Homo sapiens: one gene and its partners. The protein of the gene in region 1 interacts with the protein of each later gene in a biochemical or structural test. Each region holds a gene or a part of one and is shown in the gene's direction. Other genes may lie near its edges.

The links.
Region 2: the proteins of ARHGAP17 (region 1) and BTK form a complex in vitro, tested with the Homo sapiens proteins (one study listed by BioGRID).
Region 3: the proteins of ARHGAP17 (region 1) and PACSIN1 form a complex in vitro, tested with the Homo sapiens proteins (one study listed by BioGRID).

Annotation. Positions count from the first base shown.
Region 1 is NC_000016.10:25,004,549-25,012,868, reverse strand, and holds part of ARHGAP17 (rho GTPase-activating protein 17), read left to right. Parts: intron 1-8,320. UniProt on the Homo sapiens protein: Rho GTPase-activating protein involved in the maintenance of tight junction by regulating the activity of CDC42, thereby playing a central role in apical polarity of epithelial cells.
Region 2 is NC_000023.11:101,369,192-101,376,191, reverse strand, and holds part of BTK (tyrosine-protein kinase BTK), read left to right. Parts: intron 1-877; coding exon of another isoform or gene 878-907; coding exon 908-1,048; intron 1,049-1,557; coding exon 1,558-1,656; intron 1,657-4,490; coding exon 4,491-4,559; intron 4,560-6,112; coding exon 6,113-6,194; intron 6,195-7,000. UniProt on the Homo sapiens protein: Non-receptor tyrosine kinase indispensable for B lymphocyte development, differentiation and signaling. Binding of antigen to the B-cell antigen receptor (BCR) triggers signaling that ultimately leads to B-cell activation.
Region 3 is NC_000006.12:34,469,076-34,476,075, forward strand, and holds part of PACSIN1 (protein kinase C and casein kinase substrate in neurons protein 1), read left to right. Parts: intron 1-7,000. UniProt on the Homo sapiens protein: Plays a role in the reorganization of the microtubule cytoskeleton via its interaction with MAPT; this decreases microtubule stability and inhibits MAPT-induced microtubule polymerization.

The DNA of each region.
Region 1 (8,320 bases):
TCATGCTGGAGCTGTAATTCTGGGCCTGACCTTTGACTGTCTTTAAAAATCTTTATTGCTAGATGCCAGTGGAAGCTGAAGCTATTACAGAACTATTAAGGGTGTGGCAATTATGCACCCAAAGTCAGAACATCTGTTTTTAACTGGGAAACCTGTTGCTTCCTTGCTGTTGATTTCCTAGATGTGTGTGTGTATGTGTTTTCTGCTTAAGTAATCAGAAAGGACTAAGGAAGATAAACGGAGGCTGGAGAGTGCCTAGAATTGTTACTGCTTGGAAGTAGGTGGTTGGTTGGCCCCAGAATCAGGATTCTGGGTGTTTTTAGGTCAAGATGAAGGCTACAAAGCAAAGGGTTTTTTTGTTTTCGCCCCTGCGATCTAGGTGGAGAAGGAAGTTATATATGTGAATGTCATGCCCATCGTGTTTTGGTTTATCAATTTGTGGAATTCTAGGTGGTGTCTTGCAGTGAGATATTCTCCTCAGAAGGGAGACCTTTGAGTACTTTCACTGTAAGGTTCCAGGGGAGGGACTTGTAGAGAATTAGTAATGCCTGGAAGGAATGAGTTCGCATGATGCAGTTTGTTTACGATGGGTGGGTAAGTCTATTTGAGAAGACGGCCTGAAACTCACAGGGGCAAGGCTTATGAGGTGGTCTCATGGTGTGAGTGTCCCAAAGAAGAGAAGTAGGATGGTTCTTTTAGTCCACCTGCCTTTTGTTGATTCATGCATTCAACAGACACTTGTTGAGCCTACACTGTGTCCTGTTATCCAGGGTATTAAAGAATCAAAGGTGAATACGGGCATGGTTTCTGCCCTGAGGGAGCTCAGGAGATACGTGGAAGAGGTAGGCAGGCAAAAAATAATTATATACATGAGATAAGTGCTTAAGAGGGATGGCTAATGCACAGAGCAAAACCCAGCTGTCATTGGATTGAGGGAGGTAACAAAAGCTTCCCAGAGGAGAAAATCTGAGCACCTTTCTCTGCCTTCATTTTCAAGCCCTTATTTCAAATATCTCTTGTATTGATTAGGTCTCTTTTGGTTGTAAGAAAACCCAGTTCATAGCAAAGACGGGAATTGATTGGCTCATAAGTGACCAAAAGAGCCTCTAATAAGTAGTGTGGCTGCAGATTTGGCTTCTTCTGGGGGTTCCACTCTTTTTTTTTTTTTTTGAGACGGAGTCTGGCTCTGTCACCCAGGTTGGAGTGTAGTGGCGCGGCTCACTGCAGCCTCCACCTCCTAGGTTCAAGCAATTCTCCCGTCTCAGCCTCCCAAGTAGCTGGGACTACAGGCCTGTACCACCATGCCCGACTGATTTTTGTATTTTCAGTAGAGATGTGGTTTTGCCATGTTGGCCAGGCTGGTCTCAAACTCCTGCCCTCAGATGATCTGCCCACCTTGGCCTCCCAAAGTGCTGGGATTACAGGCATGAGCCACTGCGCCTGGCCTCGGTTCCACTCTTTAGGTAGGCACTGTGTCCACTGGGAGACTTCCACATCTTCCAAGTCTCAGAGGGAAAGAATACTCATCTCGCAGTCACTGTGGCCCGAGTCCCAGGATTGGCTCTGAATGCTTCTGGGTCACATGCCTTTCCCCAGAAATGGACTGGAGTCAGCGCACCCAAACCATATGGACTGAGAGTGGATGGTAATGGGTGGTAATCAGGCAAGAAATAAAGGTCATGGTGTGTCTTTTGTAGCCCTGCTAAAAAGAGAGATGTTTTGTTTCTTGAAAACCCTTAGATGCAGATCATCACCAATGGTGTTTTTGGGGAGATGATGTCTTGAGTAGAGGAAGGAGTACACTGGGATGAAGACCTTGAAGTTACAGAAGTATCAAGGAGAAAAAAAATTTGAGAGACAACTAGGAGAGCATAGTACTGAGGCTCTGATAGGGAGTGTCTCCTTGGGTGTTGATTTCTTCCCTGACTGAAGTTTCCCTTGGAGGTCTGAATGCTTTCACAGATAGTTGTTTTTTGAGAACCCAAGGTTGTAAACCCAAATGCCTAGAGGGCGAGGCCAGTAAAATGAATCAGTGCTTTGGGCCATGTGAAGGCCTCAGGGGACCTGGAGGACTGTGTCCCACCAAAGGGGCTGCTGTGGTAATGTAGGCCCAGTGTGGACCACCTGTGGAGTTTTCCTGAAATCTGCATTTTAACTAGCTGGCGTTTAATCCAAATTAAACTACGGGGACACTATATGCAGCTGAACAAAATATTTCTGTGGATCACCCAACTGCTTGTCTAGAAGGACTCAGAAATTGACAGTCCCTCTTTTTCATTTATTCCCCTGTACCTTACCCTGATGTTTTCAGTTCTTTGGATTTGTTGAAAAACAGCTCATCCTTTCTTTACTAAAATCTTGAAAAGGTCTGATAGTAACAGTCTATAACATTTCTATGGTGGTTTAGTTTACAAAGTGCTGTACTAAACCACCTGGCTTGGATTTCGTCTCCTGACAATGATAACTTCTCTCTGACAAAGATGGAAACCTGGCTGGGTGGGGTGGGGTGGCTCACGCCTGTAATCCTGACACTTTGAGAGCCCGAGGTAGGAGGATCACTTGAACCCAGGAATTTCAGACCAGCCTGAGCAACATGGTGAAACCCGGTCTTTACAAAAAATACAGAAAACTAGCCAGGAGTGGTGGTGTTTGCCTGTCTCAGCTGCTTGGGAGGCTGAGGTGGGAGGATCAACTGAGCCTGGAAAGTCGAGGCTGCAGTGAGCTGAGATCATGCCACTGCACTCCAGTCTGGGTGACAGAGCAAGACCCTGTCTCAAAAAAAAAAAGAAAAAAAAGAGGAAGAAACCTGACTTTCTAAGTTTGCACAGTTACTGAGTAGTGGCTGAGGCATGGCTTGGGTCCAGGGCCTCTTCCTGTGGTTCCCAAGTGCTTTTGAGTACAGGAACTGGGCTGCCTCTTCACCAGGGAAGGATTAGTGTTTATTAATGTTTATTAAACATCTTCTGTGCTTATGAAGCTGCTGGGCTTGGTGCTTTGCATACTTTTATTTCATTGCATTCTCATAGCCACCCTCTGAGGTGATGTTACTTATTTCTGATTTAATGATGAGGAAGCCAGAGATCAAAGAGGTCATCAAGCTCGCAAGAGACAGAGCCGTGGACCCAAACCCAGGTTTCTGATTCTGCAGCAGCTATAAATTCTGATCACAGAGATCTAATGACCTCTAGGAGTCTTCCACTCCTAGGAGGTATGTAGAATGGACCACTCACTAGGTAGTTGGATCCACTACCAGCAATGTGAATTCTCACACTGAGTCAAAATGTGTCTCTACCTACTGATCCCAGAACAGTCCCCTGCTGCCGAATTGAATGAATCTCATCTCTCTTCCCTGAGTCAGCCCTGCCTGTATTTGATGATCACAAACCTTATCCTTACGTTGCCAGCAGTAACATTCTGCATCCCTCACCCACTCCACTGTGTCCTTTTCCTCCCACTGATCTTCACTCTACCTTTCCTTCCCCCCACCCTTTTTTTTTTTTTTTTGACGGAGTCTCGCTCTGCCGCCCAGACTGGAGTGCAGTGGTACAATCTCGACTCACTGCAACCTCCACCTCCTGGGTTCAAGCGATTCTCCTTCCTCAGCCTCCCGAGTAGCTGGGCTTACAGGCATGAGCCACCAAGCCTGGCTAATTTTTGTATTTTTTAGTAGAGATGGAGTTTTGCCATGTTGGCCAGGCTGGTCTTGAACCCCTGACCTCAGGTGATCCACCCACCTTGGCCTCCCAAAGTGCTGGGGTTACAGGCGTGAGCCACCACGCCTGCCCACTCTGCCTTTTCTAGGGGAACTCTGAACAGTATTTCTGAGAAGGGATAGGTAATGTGTGCTTTGCTTCAATCTGAGTGGATTCCATCAACCTCTCCATAGAGCAGGGTGGAAAGAGGTCCTCTTGTCGTTGCAGCAGCTTCTCAATCTCATCTTTTATGGCCTTATTATGTAGTTTACATGTTAAGAAATCCAGAAGTATTTATAGTTGAGTGAAAATCCATTCTTTACTGGGGGGAAGAAATGAACTCTAAAACCATAAAAATGATGAACCAGTAGAAAATTTTCATCTGTAAATTTGAACCATAAAAGGATATGTTCATTTAGCATCATTTTTATATGTGTAAGCGGCATGTTACGCTATTATGGAATTGCCTTTGTAGCAGAGTGGACGAGGCAAAACCTTCCAAGTTTGATTATGGCCTAGGGCGCTGCAGTCAGTACGTGCACCGTGCATTTTTGTCAGACCACAGGATGTTTCACCTTTATCATTCTATTTCAGTTTCTCAAGTGTAGGTAGATGCTGTAGTAACTAGTGAAGTACAAATCCATGTAAAAATGTTAAACTCTCATCTGTTCGCTGTGTTTGTATTTTCTTAAAGGTAGGGATTAAAAGTGTAATAGGCCCACAGTCCCTTATCTGGAATCATTGGGCCAGATAAGTTTTAGAATTCAGAATTTTTCAGATTTTTCTAAAAGTAATAATATGCATATATTGTTGTTATGTAATACTTCCAGTGGGGTCTGGGACAAAATCCCATAATCAAACATTAGTATAGCAAAATATATATACATATATTCCCACTGAATGGATATGCATGAAGATTATGCATAGTTTAATATCAGTTCAGGTCAACTTTTATTGCCAAATAAGTTACAAAAAAAGATTTGTTTTTTAGAACTTTTTGGATTACAAAATGGTGATAGGGATTGTGGACTTGTCTTACTTTTAGTTATATACCTATTGAGAGTCTGTTAAATTTTTTTACTGTAAATAATATTTCCCATATTCCCAAAGGTTGGAAACCACAATCACATAAGCAGGGGTCACAAACCGAAGTGCCAGGTTGGGTAAAATAAATAAGTGAAATGGGAGGCGGGTATAGGACAGTAGGGAATGTGGGGACTGCAGTGAACTGGTGAATACATGTTCATTCAAAGGGGAGAGCTGCTCTTCAGTTCTAGCCACTTGTTGCCATGGTGAACGTGGGAGTAGTGAAGCTACATCTTCCATTTTTGATGATACTCCAGAATGCTGATTTTCATGTGAAGTTTCTTGATATTTAAATGTTGGCAACTAAAAAGAAAAAAACCCACTGTTGGCCAAAGAAAACATCTGAAAGCATTATCTGGCTGTGGGCTGCCTGCTTTCATTTGTAGTTTAGAGACTAATGCTTGTGGTATGAAAAGTTGTCAGTGAGCCGGGTGCAGTGGCCCATGCTTGTAATCTCAGCATTTTGGGAGGCTGAGGTGGGAGGATCACTTGAGACCAGGAGTTTGAGACCAGCCTGAGCAACATAGCAAGATCCTGTCTCTACACACGCAAAAAGTTTAGCCAGGCATGGTAGCATGTGCATGTAGTCCCCAGCTACTTGGGAGGCTCAGGTGGGAGGATCGCTTGAGCCTGGGAGGTCGAGGCTGCAGTGAACTGTGATCCTGCCACCGTGCTCCAGCCTGGGTGATGGAGTGAGACCCTGTCTCTAAATAAGTAATTTGTCAGTGGCATTCGTAATGAACTACTTTCTTGAGATATGGATGGGTGCATTTGCTTTATTGTTATTCATTATGCTTTACATACACACTATATGTTCTTTGCACATAAAATATTTCATAATAAAAATCTAAAGAAGTTGATAAGCACTTTATTTTAGCATTGCCTTATTTTCTAGCCATTAGGAAATTTTCATCTGTAAATTTGAAACTTTAAACTTATTTATCTTGGAAAAGGGACTGAAAGCCCCACTTCAAAAATAGGAGCCCTCTTTTTAAAAAGTAGGAGTTAAAAGAGGTTAGATTGTAATGTTCATTCCTTTCCAGGGCCATAGTGATCTGAAGTAACATTGGGTATTCACTGTTATATTGCGACAGAGAAATGTCCTCGATCTCCTTTCTTCTCAGACCGTTCCCCTGGGTGATCTCAGCCCCATAACTATCACCTCATGGTGACAGTTTTATGCCTCCAGCCCTGGGGTCTCTTTATCCCTAGAATGATGCTATCATCTCTCTCTTGAAAAATCTCTGCTGACATGGCCTGATAAAATTGAACCCATGAACTTCTTCCTCAAATTGGCTTCATTTCCCTCTATCTTCTAGTCTGTGAGTCACGAGACTTTGGCCTGCAGGGTAAATCCAGCCCACCGCTTGCTTTGTGAAAAAGTTTACTGGAACACAGCCACTCACTACAGTGGCAGGGTTGAATAGTTGCAACAGTGACCCATATGGCCTGCAACGCCTATGGTATTTATCCTCTGGCACTTCATAAGAAGCATGTGACCCCTGCCCTAGGGCATTAAATGCCCTCACACCCTCCCTAGTCACCTGTCAGTCCCATTCTTTTTCCTCCATCATCTCAGTCAGGTGAGGAGACTGGAAATTCTGCCTCTTTGATTATCTTTTTCTTTTTTTTTTTTTTTTTGAGACGGAGTCCCTCTCTGTCACTCAGTCTGGAGTGCAGTGGCATGATCTCGGCTCACTGCAACCTCTGTCTCCCGGGTTCAAGCGATTCTCCTGTCTCAGCCTCCTGAGTAGCTGGGACTACAGGCGCACACCACCATGTCCGGCTAATTTTTTTTTTTTTTTAATTTTTAGTAGAGACAGAGTTTCACCATGTTGGCCAGGCTGGTCTGGAACTGACCTTGATTATCTGTTGACTTCATCTTTGCTTCCCAGAGGCCATCCTTCCTGTTACCTTAATTAGGTGCTCATTATTTTTCACTTGGAGTCAAATTTGTCTTCCAGTTGGCTTTGCTGCCTTGAGCTGGCTTGAGCTGGATTGTATCTACAATTCCCCAACCTTCTGTTTGACATGGTCGGTCACCATTTTAATGATTATAGCTGCTCACCTCTAAATTACTTTTTCATGATGAATTCTCTAGAGGTTAGAATCACTAGATTTATAGGAAATTAATGTTTATATCATGACAGTATTGCCAGGTTGTCTCCTAAGATGATAATGCCGTCATTTAGTTTGTAGTGCAGAAAGTGATGTTGCGCAATAATGTGTGTCATTATGCATGACATGATGAATATCACATTTCACCATCACCTTAGTTGCATTAGATATTGTCCTTAAAAAATTTGTTATCTATTTAAATTTTTTCCACTAAGTTCAAAATGAATGTGTTCTTACATTTGTATTTCTTTATATGAGTTTTCTCTGTATGTGTCATTTGTTTGTCATGGAATTAACGTTTAGTTATCAGTTTCATTGCTCAGTTACCAATTTAGTTCAACAAATGTCTCTTGAGAACCTGTCAAATGATAGGGGCTGGGGTTAAAAATATAATTGATCCCTGGGGACTTGAATGTGGAGACAGAGCTACAAACAGATAATCTGAATGTAACCAGTTTTATCTATTCTAGCAGATCTTAGGTGCTGTTAATGAAATCTTAATGCCATTCTTTGATGTATTTATGTACTTTAATATAAACAAGTTAGCATTCTTGTTCATAGATATGTTCCTCAACAGATACAGTGATGAAACCTTGCACATTCATGACTAGGTACAGATTTAATACAAGTTTCAGAAGATAAAGCTGATTCTATAAAAAATCTAAGATTTCTATAAGAAACTGTCTTTTAAATAGGTAGAGCCTATTATTTATAGCAAATAAAATAATAGGCATGTTTGATATAAAAACAATATTCAGGCTGGGTATGGTGGCTCACGCCTGTAATCCCAGCACTTTGGGAGGCCAAGGCGGGTGGATCTCCTGAGGTCACGAGTTTGAGACCAGCCTGACCAATATGGTAAAACCCCATCTCTACTAAAAATACGAAAATTAGCTGGGCATGGCAGGCAGGCGCCTGTAATCCCAGGTACTCAGGAGGCTGAGGCAGGAGAATGGCTTGGACCCAGGAGGCCGAGGTTGCAGTGAGCCAAGATCGCACCACTGCACTCCAGCCTGGGCAACAGAGTGAGACTCCATCTCAAAAACAAACAATATTCAGTTCATTTCAGCCATGCATCTTGTGAGACTGTGTTTCCTCTGTGTTAATTACAGCTTATTGATTATTTGCATTGGCTACTTCCTTTTGATTATCCCAAGATGTTTCTCTCTTCCTCTCCTTTCCCACAGCTCTTCTTTTTGGACGTCTTCCTTATCAGAGATACCTTTTGGTTTAGTAGTCAATTTGATCTCTCCTTTAATGTTTCATTAGCATTTCTTCTGTAGTTACTCAGTGTTCTTCCACATGGTTTGGCCAAATTTATACTTCTTAAAGAGTTTAAATTAGAAATCACAGACCAAGTAAACAGGTGCTCAAATGAATATAAATCTTAAATAAATGTACAGAAATTATTAAAAGCACCCATC
Region 2 (7,000 bases), on another chromosome or scaffold:
AACTTTATTTGTCTTTCTGTGTTTCAGTTACCTAAATTGAATCCTTCTGGAGTATTGTAGGTTTGGGGAGGCTAAATAAGTTGTGTTTCATAAATGAACAGAGGTGGCATCTATATCAGTAAGACAGTTGCATCACTTTTGCATGATGCTGTCTAAAAGAACTAATTTAAGCTAAATGGGGAAAAGGTCAGAAAACAACAACTACCCCCCCCCCACCAAAACCCACCAAAAAAAATTATGTTTTCAACTTTAGAACAAATCTTCTATCCTTTGTAGCTCAGTCAGTGGGTGTGGGCAAAATCAGTTGGGCAGCAGTTAGTGTGTGTCCAGAACTGCAGGTGCAGCCTCCATATCCTTATTAGTTCCCTTGGTTACAGACCCCAGTGGGACAATGTTTGAAAAATTATATTCACCGTCTAGGAAATTGGGAACTGAAAGTCCAATATCTGCCTCAGTGGAGTTCTGGCACCTGCATTATCCCTTCTGGGTATATCAAGATCAACAGCTGCACAGATACTTTTGCTTTTCACAGATTCTACACATATCATATAAAGGTGAATAGTGTAAAGCTACCTCTACACCTTACCAAGCACACAGGTGCGTGCCATTTAACATCTAGAGCATTCCATTGCCTTATACAAGAACTCAGTTTATATGAGCTCACAACATCGAACCAATCCCCCCCCAATTCAGTGTGCATCCATTATACCTGAAACCTGACAGAGCTGGGGGCTGTGGGAGGAGGTTGGTAGGAAGAAATTATTTTGTGAGCTGTGCACATTTTTGTTCCATTTGAAACTAGGTAGCTAGGCTGAGGGGGAACCAAGAGGGATGAGGATTAATGTCCTGGGTCCTCAGGAACTTTCATTATCAACAGCACACAGGTGAACTCCAGAAAGAAGAAGCTATGGCCGCAGTGATTCTGGAGAGCATCTTTCTGAAGCGATCCCAACAGAAAAAGAAAACATCACCTCTAAACTTCAAGAAGCGCCTGTTTCTCTTGACCGTGCACAAACTCTCCTACTATGAGTATGACTTTGAACGTGGGGTAAGTTTCTCGACTATGAAAACTGAGTTTCAAGATATCAAGGACTTGGCCTTAGATCTTTCTTGGGGAAGAGGTAAATTTTCGTTGGTAGGAGGAGGGGAGTAGAATGGACCTAAGTTCTTTCAAATTCAGCAAAATATTTCCTAGCCTATAACTAGCTAAAGCCGGAAAGTCAAAGGTCCTAAGAAGCCACAAGGAAAATATTACCATGGAATCTTGGAATTGATGAGCACTCATTAAATGATTGTTGAAAATGAAATCGAAGAGTTGGAAATTGCTTCCTTACTTCCTATGAGGAAGGTACATACAGTCATTCACTCTTCCATGGTATTTGCCCTCCATTTGGTAGTCATAGATTTATAGATCTGGAAGGATTTTTTTTTCTTCCCCCACATGACAGGTCCTGGTGCCACCTCACTTTGTTGAATGATTAGATAACAAAATCTAATCATCTGGTTGCTTAATCCCTCTTAATCTTTCTCCATTTTCTTCCTCATTCTACTTCTCAGAGAAGAGGCAGTAAGAAGGGTTCAATAGATGTTGAGAAGATCACTTGTGTTGAAACAGTGGTTCCTGAAAAAAATCCTCCTCCAGAAAGACAGATTCCGGTAAGAAGAGACCAATGTCTGAGATGGGGAACAGCAGATTTGAAGAAATTTGCAACATTTAAATTCTCTGTAAATAGACTGGTGATGCTGTGCAACGTGGAACACGGTCAAGTTTCCTTTAAAAATTCTTCACTCTACCATATTGGTTATAAAGAATCTTAGCTTCTTTCCTTCATATTCAGAACATCTCACTAAACATGGAAAATTTGTTAACACAAACTTTTAAATGATGCTATATCTAGTTTTCAAACTGGTCAGAGATCATTGATTTTATTCCCTCAGTTCTCTCAGGATCAGATTTAGAGGCTTAAGTAAGTCTGAATGTCATAATCCTAGGGCTCTGAGTCACATGATATCCTTTAATACCTTACTATTTATTCTCTTCTCACTTTCCGGAGCGAGAGACATAAAACCTACTGATTTTTGAGTTCACTTTTAAAAAATATATATCAATTTCAGTATTTTCTTTTTTTCTTTTTTTTTTCTTTTTTTAGACAGAGTCTCGCTCTGTTGCCCAGGCTGGAATGCACTGGTGCCATCTTGGCTCACTGCAACCTTCACCTCCCGGGTTCAAGCAATTCTCATGCCTCAGCCTCCCAAGTAGCTGGGATTACAGGTGTGCACCACCATGCCTGGCTAATTTTTCGTATTTTTTTAGTAGAGACGGGGTTTCACCATGTTGGCCAGGCTGGTCTTGAACTCCTGGCCTCAAGTGATCCGCCTGTCTCGGCCTCCCAAAGTGCAAAGATTACAGGCGTGAGCCACCCACTGGGTCTGACCATTTTCAGTATTTTCTTGATCACAGGAGAATTGCGTATTTATTACAGAAACTCTGGAATATATAAAAAATACAAAAAGATTAAAATGATGCATAATCCTGTTACCCAGTTAAAACAACTATCAACATATTGGTGTACATAGACTTACAGATGTTTTTCTTCACTGAGAACACATACGCATACACTTATATATATGTCATATATTTAAAACATAGACTCATAGTACACATCTTGCTTTGTAACGTACTTTTTCAATGTAACGATATGTGGGAAACTTTTCCCCATGACAATAGATATTCTTTAATAACATGATTTTAATGACTGTATGGTATTCCCTATTATGGATGTATTGTAATTTGTTTAATCTCCCATTATTACACATTCGGTTTGTCTACAAGTACTTGATAGTATAAACCATGTTGAGAGGAACAATCTTGCATACATCTTTCTGTACTTTTTTTATTCTTTTCCTTATGATAATTTCCTAGAAGTAAAATTTTGTTCTTCTCTTTAAGAAAATCTGTGCACTTTGGTTATTTTTATCTTTTTATTTCATTTTCTAGAAGTGGAATTGAATTTCATACACACCTACAAGCTATGTATGAGAGTGCCTGTTTCTGTACATTTTTTCCAACACTAGATATTTTGTTATTTTTATTATTATTATTATTTTCTGAGATGGAGTCTCGCTGTGTCGCCCAGGCTGGAGTGCAGTGGTGCGATCTCCGCTCACTGTAACCTCTGCCTCCGGTTCAAGTGATTCTCCTGCCCCAGCCTCCTGAGTAGCTGGGACTACAGGCGCCCACCACCACACCCTGCTAATTTTTGTATTTTTAGTAGAGATGGGGTTTCACCAGATTGGTCAGGCTGATCTCAAACTCCTGACCTCAAGTGATCCTCCCACCTCGGCCTCCCAAAGTGCTGGGATTACAGGCGTGAGCCACTGTGCCCAGCCCAACACTAGATATTTTAAATATTAGTTAATTTGACAGCCAAGAAAAATAGCATTTCAGGTGGGGCGTGGTGGCTCACGCCTGTAATCCCAGCACTTTGGGAGGCCAAGGCAGGCGGATCATGAGCAGGAGTTCGAGACCAGCCTGACCAACATGGTGAAACCCCGTCTCTACTAAAAATACAAAAATTAGCTGGGCATGGTGGCGCGAGCCTGTAATCCCAGCTACTCGGGAGGCTGAGGCAGGAGACTCCCTTGAACCCAGGAGGCGGAGGTTGCAGTGAGCCGAGATCGCACCACTGCACATCCAGGCTGGACGACAGAGCAAGACTCCGTCTCAAAAAAAAAAAATAGCATTTTATTGCTAACTTATTTTGCAATTTCTTTTACTCATAAAGTTGGTCTACTGCTCATTTATATTTTATTTGTGAATTGCCCATTAATTTTTGGTCCATTTTTTACATTGAGATGTTTACCTCATTTCTAATACTTTTAAAGAGATCTTGATATAAGAACATTTATCCTTTAACTGTAAAGTATGTTGAAAATGTTTTTCAGTTTATCCTTTATCTTTCAATTTTGTTTATGATGCTTTTTGCCATATAGGGATTTAAAGTCTATGTCATCAAATTAGTTCAGGTTTTTCTTAATAGTTCTAAGTTTCATCCTTATATTAGAAAAAGCTTGCCTCCCACAGGATTATATAAATAATTGCTTATATTTACTCTCAGTCATTCATAGTTTTATTTTTTATATTAAGCTCTTGAATCCATCTGGAATTTTCTTTGGTGTATGGTGTAGCATAGCTACCTAACTCCTCTCCTCCCCACAACGTTAGTGGTTAAATATTTGTCCCAACAACAATTTTTTAGAAACCTCCATTTTCCCAGTGATTTGAAATACCTGAGTCTCTCTTGACTGGGTATGTGTTGGGTCGTATTGGATATGTGTCCCTATTGGCCTATAGAAAGTAATCACTAAGAATCAGCCTTGTCTGTGCAGGAGAAACTTCTGAAGCCACAGCAAAAGGCTTCTAGTACCTAAGGAAATTCAGAAAAGAGCAATGCATCAACCAATAACCATTTTTTCTTATTTCATTACAGAGAAGAGGTGAAGAGTCCAGTGAAATGGAGCAAATTTCAATCATTGAAAGGTTCCCTTATCCCTTCCAGGTGAGTTATTTTCTCTCACCAAATCTCGAAAGGCCCCTGTAACACAATTAGAAGGGGTGGTGGGGTGCAGGGCAGAGGGAAGGCTACGAGGACCCAGTGAATAGAAGTTGAGGTGGACAAGGATGCTGAACCAAGAAATGAGACTGGCATGGGCTAAGAATGTTTGCTTTTCTATTTACCTAATCTAACATAGTTTCTTTTAGTCTCTATACCTCAAAAAGAATACATAGCAGCACCAATTCTATCATAGTGTGTCTTGTCTATGATAACTGCATTGAGAAAGATGCTCTGCTTGTTGAGTGAGCATTTCACTTCCTTCTGGTTCTGACTATCTGTCTAATAGTGGTCATGTGGGTTGAAAAGATAGAAAAGGGGAGTAGTATTAGGAAGTTCAGTATGAGGAAGACTTATTAGACTTATGCATAAACCTAAATTCTGTTGTAATCTGGAAGAGCTGAAGTGCCACATATGCATCTGTTTAGGAGAGCAAGAACTACAAATTTGGTCTTCAGTTTGGCTTGCTTACATCCTGAGAACTCTGTAGGCCACATGTCGTGAATATAGCAGCCTCTGCAACAGTGAAAGCCAGAAAAGGAAGTGGAAAGTCTCAGGGGAGGGGGCTTTCTGTCATGGATTTATGAGCACAGCAAGACTAACAAGCAAAAAGAAAAATGTAAAAGGATCTTGTTCGTGTCCCTGACTATATCAAATTTACGAAACCTTTGAAAGAGGGGTATTTCAGACACAGTTTTTACTACCAATGCCTTTCAACAAGATGACATTGTTTGGCTGCACTAGTGAACAATGCTGAACAGCAGATAATTTTAAATTAATTTATATTTGACTTCAGAATTTATTATGTGATGTCTATAAACTCTGTGAGGGTTGGAACCACATCTTATATATTTCATGCATCTTCGTAACACCTAGCATGATGCCTTGTACATGGTTAAAAAAATACTATTTGACTTGATGATATTGCTTATTATATACCTTACCCTTTTTGAAGTAGGTTTGTAGTTCCAAATTTGATTTATTTTGGCTAATATTGGTGAGGGGAGGCCACTAGGTAGTGGAGGTGGAGGTAATTAGCCATGAATTAAAATTTTACTCCATATTATCCAAGTGAATAACCCATATGTACTAATCAAGACTTAATTTATATAGATTATCACTTCATTTCTCTTCTATACAAAGTCAGAATTTAATAATAAGATAAAATACCCTTTGTTGGATAAACAAAAATGTTATCTCCAGCAAGGGCAGACGGAGACCTTATAAAATAAGTTTATGCATGAATTGAAGCACAAGTCAGGAGGACCTAAGAGTATGAAAAATTCTAAGAGCTTTTAAACGCTACATTCCTAGATATGAAGAGTTCAGGAATCCTTCAGATAGTTCACATAACCTGAACACCATTGCTGACTGAAGATTCTGCCTTTCTTTGTTTTCTACAATAAATATACAAATTGTCCCCTAAGATTAGTACTTTCAAGGTCTTTCTCCTTTTTTCTGAATCCTAACTGCTGAAGTCTGTGTTTTCATCGACCCAGGTTGTATATGATGAAGGGCCTCTCTACGTCTTCTCCCCAACTGAAGAACTAAGGAAGCGGTGGATTCACCAGCTCAAAAACGGTGAGAATTATTTGGAAAATAAATGTTTCCAAAGAAAGAAGGAAAGGAAGGAAGAGGAGATAGACGGGAGGAAAAGGAAAGAAGGAAGAGAGAAACGAGAAAGAAAGAGAAAGGAGAAACGTAGAGAGAAAAGAAGAAAAAAATGGATAGAAGGGGAGAAAAGAAAGAGAGAGGGAGGGGAGGAGGGAGACAGGAAGGAAGGAAGCAAGGAAAGAAGGAAGGGGATGAGGGAGGAAAGAAAGACAAATAACAAAGAAACAAAGGAAAGTTTGTATTTTGTTTCAATATTAGTAATACAATTGAGCTTAGTATTCCATCATATGAATAAAAGATAAAATATTAGACTAAGAGTTTCCCAGTTCTATCACTATCTCTCTAGTGCAATTTTGTAATTTTAGGCACCTCCATTTCTCTATTTATTAAGAAAAGTCCCATTTTTTGCACTGAATACAAGGGTGGTGTGGCATTCAATGGTTATGCAATATTTAGAATCCTAAGTATAAAATACCTAGCTCCAAAAAATTAAATAGATGATGTATGAGAGTGCTTGAAGTCAGAGTCAGAGAACCTGGTTTCAAGCCCTCTTTTACCATTTACAAACTGGGTGATTTCTGGCAAGAAGGCCAACAAGCTTCTTTGATGCTCAGTTTCTTCTTCTCAAAGGAGAATAATGGTAATTCATGCCACATCTACCTCTGGGGTTGTTGTAAGGATCAAATGAAGTAATAATACATGTAAAAGCACATGGAAAACTGTAAATCACTGTATACGAAAGCACTGTACATCTCTTTGTTGTGGATAAATAT
Region 3 (7,000 bases), on another chromosome or scaffold:
GAAGGACAGAAGGGACAGGAGAGGACATGAGGGGTGGGGGCATTCACTGATTTGGGGGGCCCTCCCTGGGGAACCAGGTGGAGGGGTTGGGGGACGAGTGGGTATACCAGATAAGAAGGATGCTGCTTGGTTTGGTTTTACATTTTTCTTAAAGAAAAATAGCTTTTATTATTTTTTCTTATTACCAAAGTAATATAGGTTTGCTGTGGGCAATTTAGAATGTACTAGAAAGCCGAATGAAGGAAGCCCATTAGCCACATCAGACCCACCCACCATGGGCACTTCGTAACTGATTTCCAGCCAGGGGCAGGATGGACCGGAGGGGAGGTCTGGGCTGGGGACTTGGCGGGCAGGTCAGGGTCCCAGGAAGTAGCCGTGAGGATTGGCAGGCAGGTAGAGGAGGGGTCCCGGAGCTTCACTGTGGAAAGCAGGGAAGGAAGTGGGATTGGATGAAGGGGAAGTGGACTCTGATGCAGCCCAACAGGCAACAGGGTGCCCTGGGGCTAGAGTGGCCTTTCAGGTCATGTCCATTTGCCTGTGAGAGTCAGGCCCTAGACCCCAGCATCCTGCGCCCATCAGGCACAGGGTTTGGGTGTGCCTTCCTGCAGGTGGCTCTGTGGTAGCAGCAGTCCCTGAAGCATCTGCCCACTGAGGTCGCCTGCTGACAGCACCCACCCCCTGGGGCAACAGGTAGTGTTCACCACCAGGAAAGATGGGTTGGGAGGAACCCAGAGGTGGGCTGAAGGGACAAGATCAACCGGAGCCTGGCCTCAGCTGGCTCTGGGGAGACAGGACCTCTAATGCCAGGGAAGTTGCTGGTGCCGTTTCCAGAAAAGGAGCGTGTCTGTGGGGAGCAATTTAGAATGTACTGGAAAGCCAAATGAAGAAAACCTATTAGCCACTTCAGACCCACCTGCTGGGGACACTTTGTGGCTGGTTTCCAGCCAGGGGCAGGGTGGCCTGGAGGGGAGGGCTGGGCTGGAGACTGGGGTCGGGGGCTCCCCTCCACCCTCCCCTGGGTGCTGTCTCTGAAGACCTCAACCTTGGGTGTGAGGGGCTGCAGGATACCTGAAAACTGGGAGGGCAGGGGAGGCCTTGGCTATTATTATTATTATTATTATTTTTGAGACGGAGTCTCACTCTGTTACCCAGGCTGGAGTGCAGTGGCGCGATCTTGGCTCATTGCAACCTCCACCTCCGGGTTCAAGCAATTCTCTGCCTCAGCCTCCTGAGTAGCTGGGATTACAGGCGCCCACCACCACGCCCGGCTAATTTTTGTATTTTTAGTAAAGACAGGGTTTCACTATCTTGGCCAGGCTGGTCTTGAACTCCTGACCTCGTGATCCACCCGCCTCGGCCTCCCAAAGTGCTGGGATTACAGGTGTGAGCCACCGCACCTGGCCTACCTTGGCTATTATTTTAAAATCACTCGATATTGTTATAATTATTTTCTTTTTAGAGGCAGGGTCTTGCTCTGTCACCCAGGCTGGAGTGAGTGACACCATCATAGCTCACTGCAGCCTCGACCTCCCGGGCCCAAGGGATCCTCCCATTCAGCCTCCTGAGTAGCTGAGTGCTACCATGCCTGGCTAATTTTTCAATTTTATTGTAGAGATGGGGTCTTACTGTGTTGCCCAGGCTAAAAATAACTTGATATTAAAATGCTGGGTAGGGGCTAGGGTAGTCTTTCTATATAAAATGCAGCATACTCAGGTAATTTTAAATTTCAGAAAAACAACAAATGTGTTTTTGTTGTTTTTTAGTCTAAGTATGTCCCAAACATTGCATAGGACATATTTTTAATAAAAAACTGTATTTGTCATTTATCTGAAATTCAGATTTAACTAGGTGTCCTGAATTTTTATTTTATTTTATTTATTTATTTTTGAGATGGAGTTTTGCTCTTGTCGCCCAGGCTTGAGTGCAAGGCTGCGATCTAGGCTCACTGCAACCTCCGCCTCCCAGGTTCAAGTGATTCTCCTGCCTCAGCCTCCTGAGTAGCTGAGATTACAGGTGCCGGCCACCACACCCAGCTAATTTTTCTGTATTTTTAGTAGAGATGGGGTTTCGCCATGTTGGCCAGGCTGGTCTCAAACTCCTGACCTCAAGTGATCTGCCCGCCTCAGCCTCCCAAAGTGCTGGGATTACAGGCATGAGCCACCGCGCCTGGCCCTGAATTTTTATTGACTAAATGTGGCCACTGTAGGCTGGGGTAGGGAGGAGTGGAGAGAGAGGGTGAGAATTTTCTGTTCTTGAGTGTGGGGGAAGAATCAATAGATACTTGTTTGAAGTTGACAGTTTTAAAACATTAACACATCCATTTTTAGAAACAGGTGAGATGTTCCAAATTTCCCATCTGTTAACTTTCTATACTGGCTAGAGAGTAGTCCCTTATTTGTGGATTTTGGCTCCTTAGTGCTGCTGAGAAATAATAAAACAATAGTTTTCTCATTTATGCAGGTGGGACAAAGGGAGATGTGGTGATCAAGGGTGGAATCACTAAATAGGGGTAATCCATTTGAGAAATAAAAGTCCTCCTAAGAAAGCTCTCATTTGGCGGAGGGCGTGGGAAACTAGAACTCTCACGTCAGTCGGGGAGCATACGTTAGCACTGTGTTTTTGGCAACAGTGGTCACAGTTTTGACTTGGCAATTCCACTTTTTGGGACTTATTCCACAGGTACACTCTGAGCAGGGTGCAAAGATTAGCTGGGCAGAGACAGTCAGTGTAGCAAAGCTAGATGTCTGTCAGGAGGACCAGTGACAAAGTCAAGACCTCTTTGTACGCTGTGATTTCGGGCAGTTGTTCGTTCTGGGATTTAATCAATGGATCTCTGAATGTCGCTGCCTGCCAGGCACCACTTTAGGTGCTTGGGGACACTGAGACAAGATGGGGCGGAGCTTATTACCAGTGTGGAAAGATGGTCATCACGTACTGATAAGTTAAAGCAAGTGGCTTTGTAGAACAATGTGTGTAGTCAAGGTCAGGAGTTCGAGACCAACCTGGCCAATATGGTGAAACCCCTGTCTCTACTAAAAATACAAAAATTACCTGGGTGTGGTGAAGGACGCCTGTAGTCCCAGCTACTCAGGAGGCTGAGGCAGGAGAATCGCTTGAGCCCAGGAGGCGGAGGTTGAAGTGAGCCGAGATCGGGCCACTGCACTCCAGCCTGGGAGACAGAGCCAGACTCTGTCTCAAAAAAAAAAAAAAAAAAAAAAAGAACAATGTGTGTAGTATGATACAATTTTTAAAGTACATGTACATATGTTCTTCTCTGTTCATATTTACATAACAATGTGTAGAAGGCTGCATACCTGATTGTGATTAGAGCTTGCCTCTGGGCTGAGGCCTATCGCAGGGATCTGGAGGGAGAATGCGTCCTCTTTATTTCAGCCATTCTGTGCTGTTTGCATTTTATAAACAAATATCATTACTCATGAAGAAAACAATTAAAACTGCACTTGATGATACTGGGAATTTTTTTCTTAGAAACCTAAAAAAATGAGCACGTAAACTCCATTCCCCTTAATCTGATGGCATGTGAGTCACATGCTGCCACGTGTGTTTGGAGAGTTTTTATCTGTGGTTGGTTCCTAACTGGTCCCCTCATGGGCTTATATTCCCTCTCCCTCCTCCCAGGCCTGTGGTGCCTGAAACCTGGCGGGATGGGAAAGGGGGTAAGGTAAGGTAACATCTGGGTATCAGGAGGGCTGTAGAAGGAGTATGGCAGAAGTGGGGTATCTGGCAAAGTGGTGGTTGTGTAGCACTGGGGAGTCTTGTAGGGGCACAAAGGAGGGGCCGGGGATCCCTGACATGTGCCAGGCGCTCTTTTGTTTATCCATATTTATAACTCATTTAGTCCTCTTAGTAAGCTCATGGGGTTATCCCCATTTTACAGATGGGGCAACTGAAGTTAAGTGACTTGCCTGAGGTCACACAGTAAGTGGCTGAGCCAGATTCACAGCCATGCAGTCTGGCTCCAGAAGCTGTGCTTGTGAGCCTCTCTGCCTCAGCACCTGTCGTCGAGGAATGGGGATAATCTCTTGTCTCAGAGACTGGAGGCAGGTGTGTTCTGGAAGACTGAAGGAGGGTTGTCTTCTGCAGAAGGCAGACCTGGAAGGAAAGGCTGGTCAGATCCAGAGACGGGGCGGGGGGCGGGGGGGTACATTCCAGGCAGAGTGACAGCAGGGACAAAGATGCAAAGGCTGGAATGTGAGTGGTGGTCTCAGGGGCTGGGGAGGAAATCAGCATAGGAACACGAGAGAGGACATGGGTCGTGAGGCTGGTGGGGCAGCCAGCTTGGATTGCTGCTGCAGGGCACTTTAAATGATCAGCCTCATTGGACCTTGTGGGACAGGTGGCCCAGGGCTGCTTCTCCTTGCAGGGCCTGGCAAAGACCCTGCATCCCTTAGCCCCACTCTGCCTAATCTGGGCCTTCCCTGAGGTCACACATTTCATCACTGGGTTCCCGGGGTCTAGCCTTGACCAGCCACTGAGGACAAGAGGGGCAGCCGAGGCAGGGCTGGAGGGCTGGGGGTTGGGGGTCCAGGCTGAGGTCCTGGCCCTGACACTGACTCACTGAGGGGCCTAGGGCCACTCAACCCCCTCCCTTGGATTCTGTTTCCTCTTCTGTCTTTTATTTGCAAACTTTTTATTGTGAAATATTATAAGCATTTACAGAAGTAGAGAAAATGTTATATAACAGTCATATACTCATGGCTTAGCATCAACAGATACCAACACATGTCCAATCTCATCTCAATCAAGATATTTCTCTAAAAGATAAGGACTTTTTCTAACACAATCACAATACCATTATTATACCTAAGAAGTATTAATTCCTTTATATAGTCAAATATTCACTTAGTATTCACATTCCCTGTTGTCTCAGACATGTCTTTTTGTTTTTTAAATTGTTTAAATCAAGTTCCAGGTAAAGTTCACACGTTATGATTGGTTGATATGTCTTAGTCTCTTTCAATCCACAGTTCTCCTCTCCATCTTTTCTTATTCTTTTGCAGTTTATCTATGGGAGGAAGCAGGTGGTTTGTCCTGCTGTGTTTCCTGCAGACTGGATTTTGTTGATTGCATCCCTGTGGTGTTATTTAGTATGTTCTTCTGTCCTCTCTGTAAATTGGGAGTTGCATTTGTCTGTCCCTGACACCTCATTTAGTCATCAACAAGTCCTTCAATTCTACATTCAAAACACCCAGAATCCACCCACTTCTTGTCACCTCCATTGCTGCCTTCCCTTCTGAGCCTCCACTATCCTCTCCTAGATCTTTGCAGCAGCCTCTACCTGGTCTTCCTGCCCCGTCCTTGCCTCACCAGCCAAAGGTCCTTTAAAACTTAAATCAGATCACATCCTTCCTCTGCTAAAGCTCTTCAATGACTCCCCTCCCATTCAGAATAAAGCCCAGAATCCTATAACAGGCTAGATGCAGTGGCTCACACCTGTAATCCCAGCACTTTGGGAGGCCGAGGCAGGTGGATCACCTGAGGTCAGGGGTTTCAGACCAGCCTGGCCAACATGGTGAAACCCCATCTGTACTAAAATTACAAAAATTAGCCAGGTGTGATGGCACACACCTGTAGTCCCAGCTACTCAGGAGCCTGAGGCAGGAGAATCCCTCAAACCTGGGAGGCAGAGGTTGCAGTGAGCTGAGATCATACCACTGCATCCAGCCTGGGTGACAGAGCAAGACTCTGTCTCAGAAAAAAAAAAAAAAAAAAAAAGCCCTATAATTGCCTGCAAGACCCCATGTGATCCGGCTGCCCAATACCTCAGACCTTCTCTCATACATCCTAGCCTCACTGATCCCCAGGTCATTTCTTGGACCCATCAAACACCCTGCCCCAGGGCCTTTGCACTCCTATTCCCTATGCCTGGAATTCTCTTCCCCAAAGGCCTACATGGCTCATGATGTTCACATCTCCACCCACATCACCCCCTCAGAGAGGCCTCCCAGACCACCTTATCAAAAACAGCCCTCGTTGTCCCCCATCTCCTGATTCTACTTTATCATCTTCATAGCACTTATCCCTGACATTATGCTCTTGTTGGTTTCTTGTCTGTCCCCCTTACCTGCCCAAGCATTCCATGAAGGCAGGGTTTGGGTGGGGGCAGAGCAGCATGACTGGGCTTCCCCTACCCCTCACCCCTGCCCACAGAGCTGACCGCCTCCTCCTCTCACATTGCTAGCTCCTCTACTTTCAATGTTTCCTAAAATTAAAAAAAAAATTAAAAAAACACATATTTGTGCCTAGTGTGTCATTGTTTACAAAATACTTCCTGTCTCAAGTCTGGTCTTCTAGAAGCAGAGCTGAGACAAGGATTCCCGGGCAAATGATTTATTGCAGGCATGCTCATATTAGAGCGGGAAAAGATTTGCTTACAGCTAGGATCCCACGGAGAGCTCTAGATTATGAACAGCCAGTCTCCCAGGGTTACCTTCCTCCAGACAAGGGGCCAGGCCTTTGTAGCCCCTTAGCTGGTGGTCATTGTCTGCAAGCTGCTCCCGGGGAAGGGCCTAGCCTCCCCCTGCATCTCCAGATGAGGCAGCTCCTGTAAGCCAAGGGCAGCTCTCAGGGGAAGGGGGCAGCTGTGAGCTGCTAGCAGCCAGCACCCACAGCTGCTGAGAGATGGGTACCCCACCTGATAGAAGGACACTGGCAGTACCCCCTCTACTTCCATATCCATTTCTGCTTTGAGCCTTGCCACAAGCCTGTGGGGATGGTATTTATTAATGATAATTATTCCCATTTCCTAGAGGAGGAAGCTGAGGTTCTTAGGGCTGAAATGACTTGCTTGAGGTTGCACAGCCAGGAAGGGGTTAGATTTAAGCTCAAATTCTTACTCAGGATCCTCTGATTAGCGGACAAATCGTCTTAGTGGCTGCTGGTTTGTAGTTTTACTCTCAAGCATTCATCCTTTTGAATGTTAAATGAATATGTATTGCGTGTGGTGTGCTGTGTGCTGAACTAGGCACCAGGCCATTCA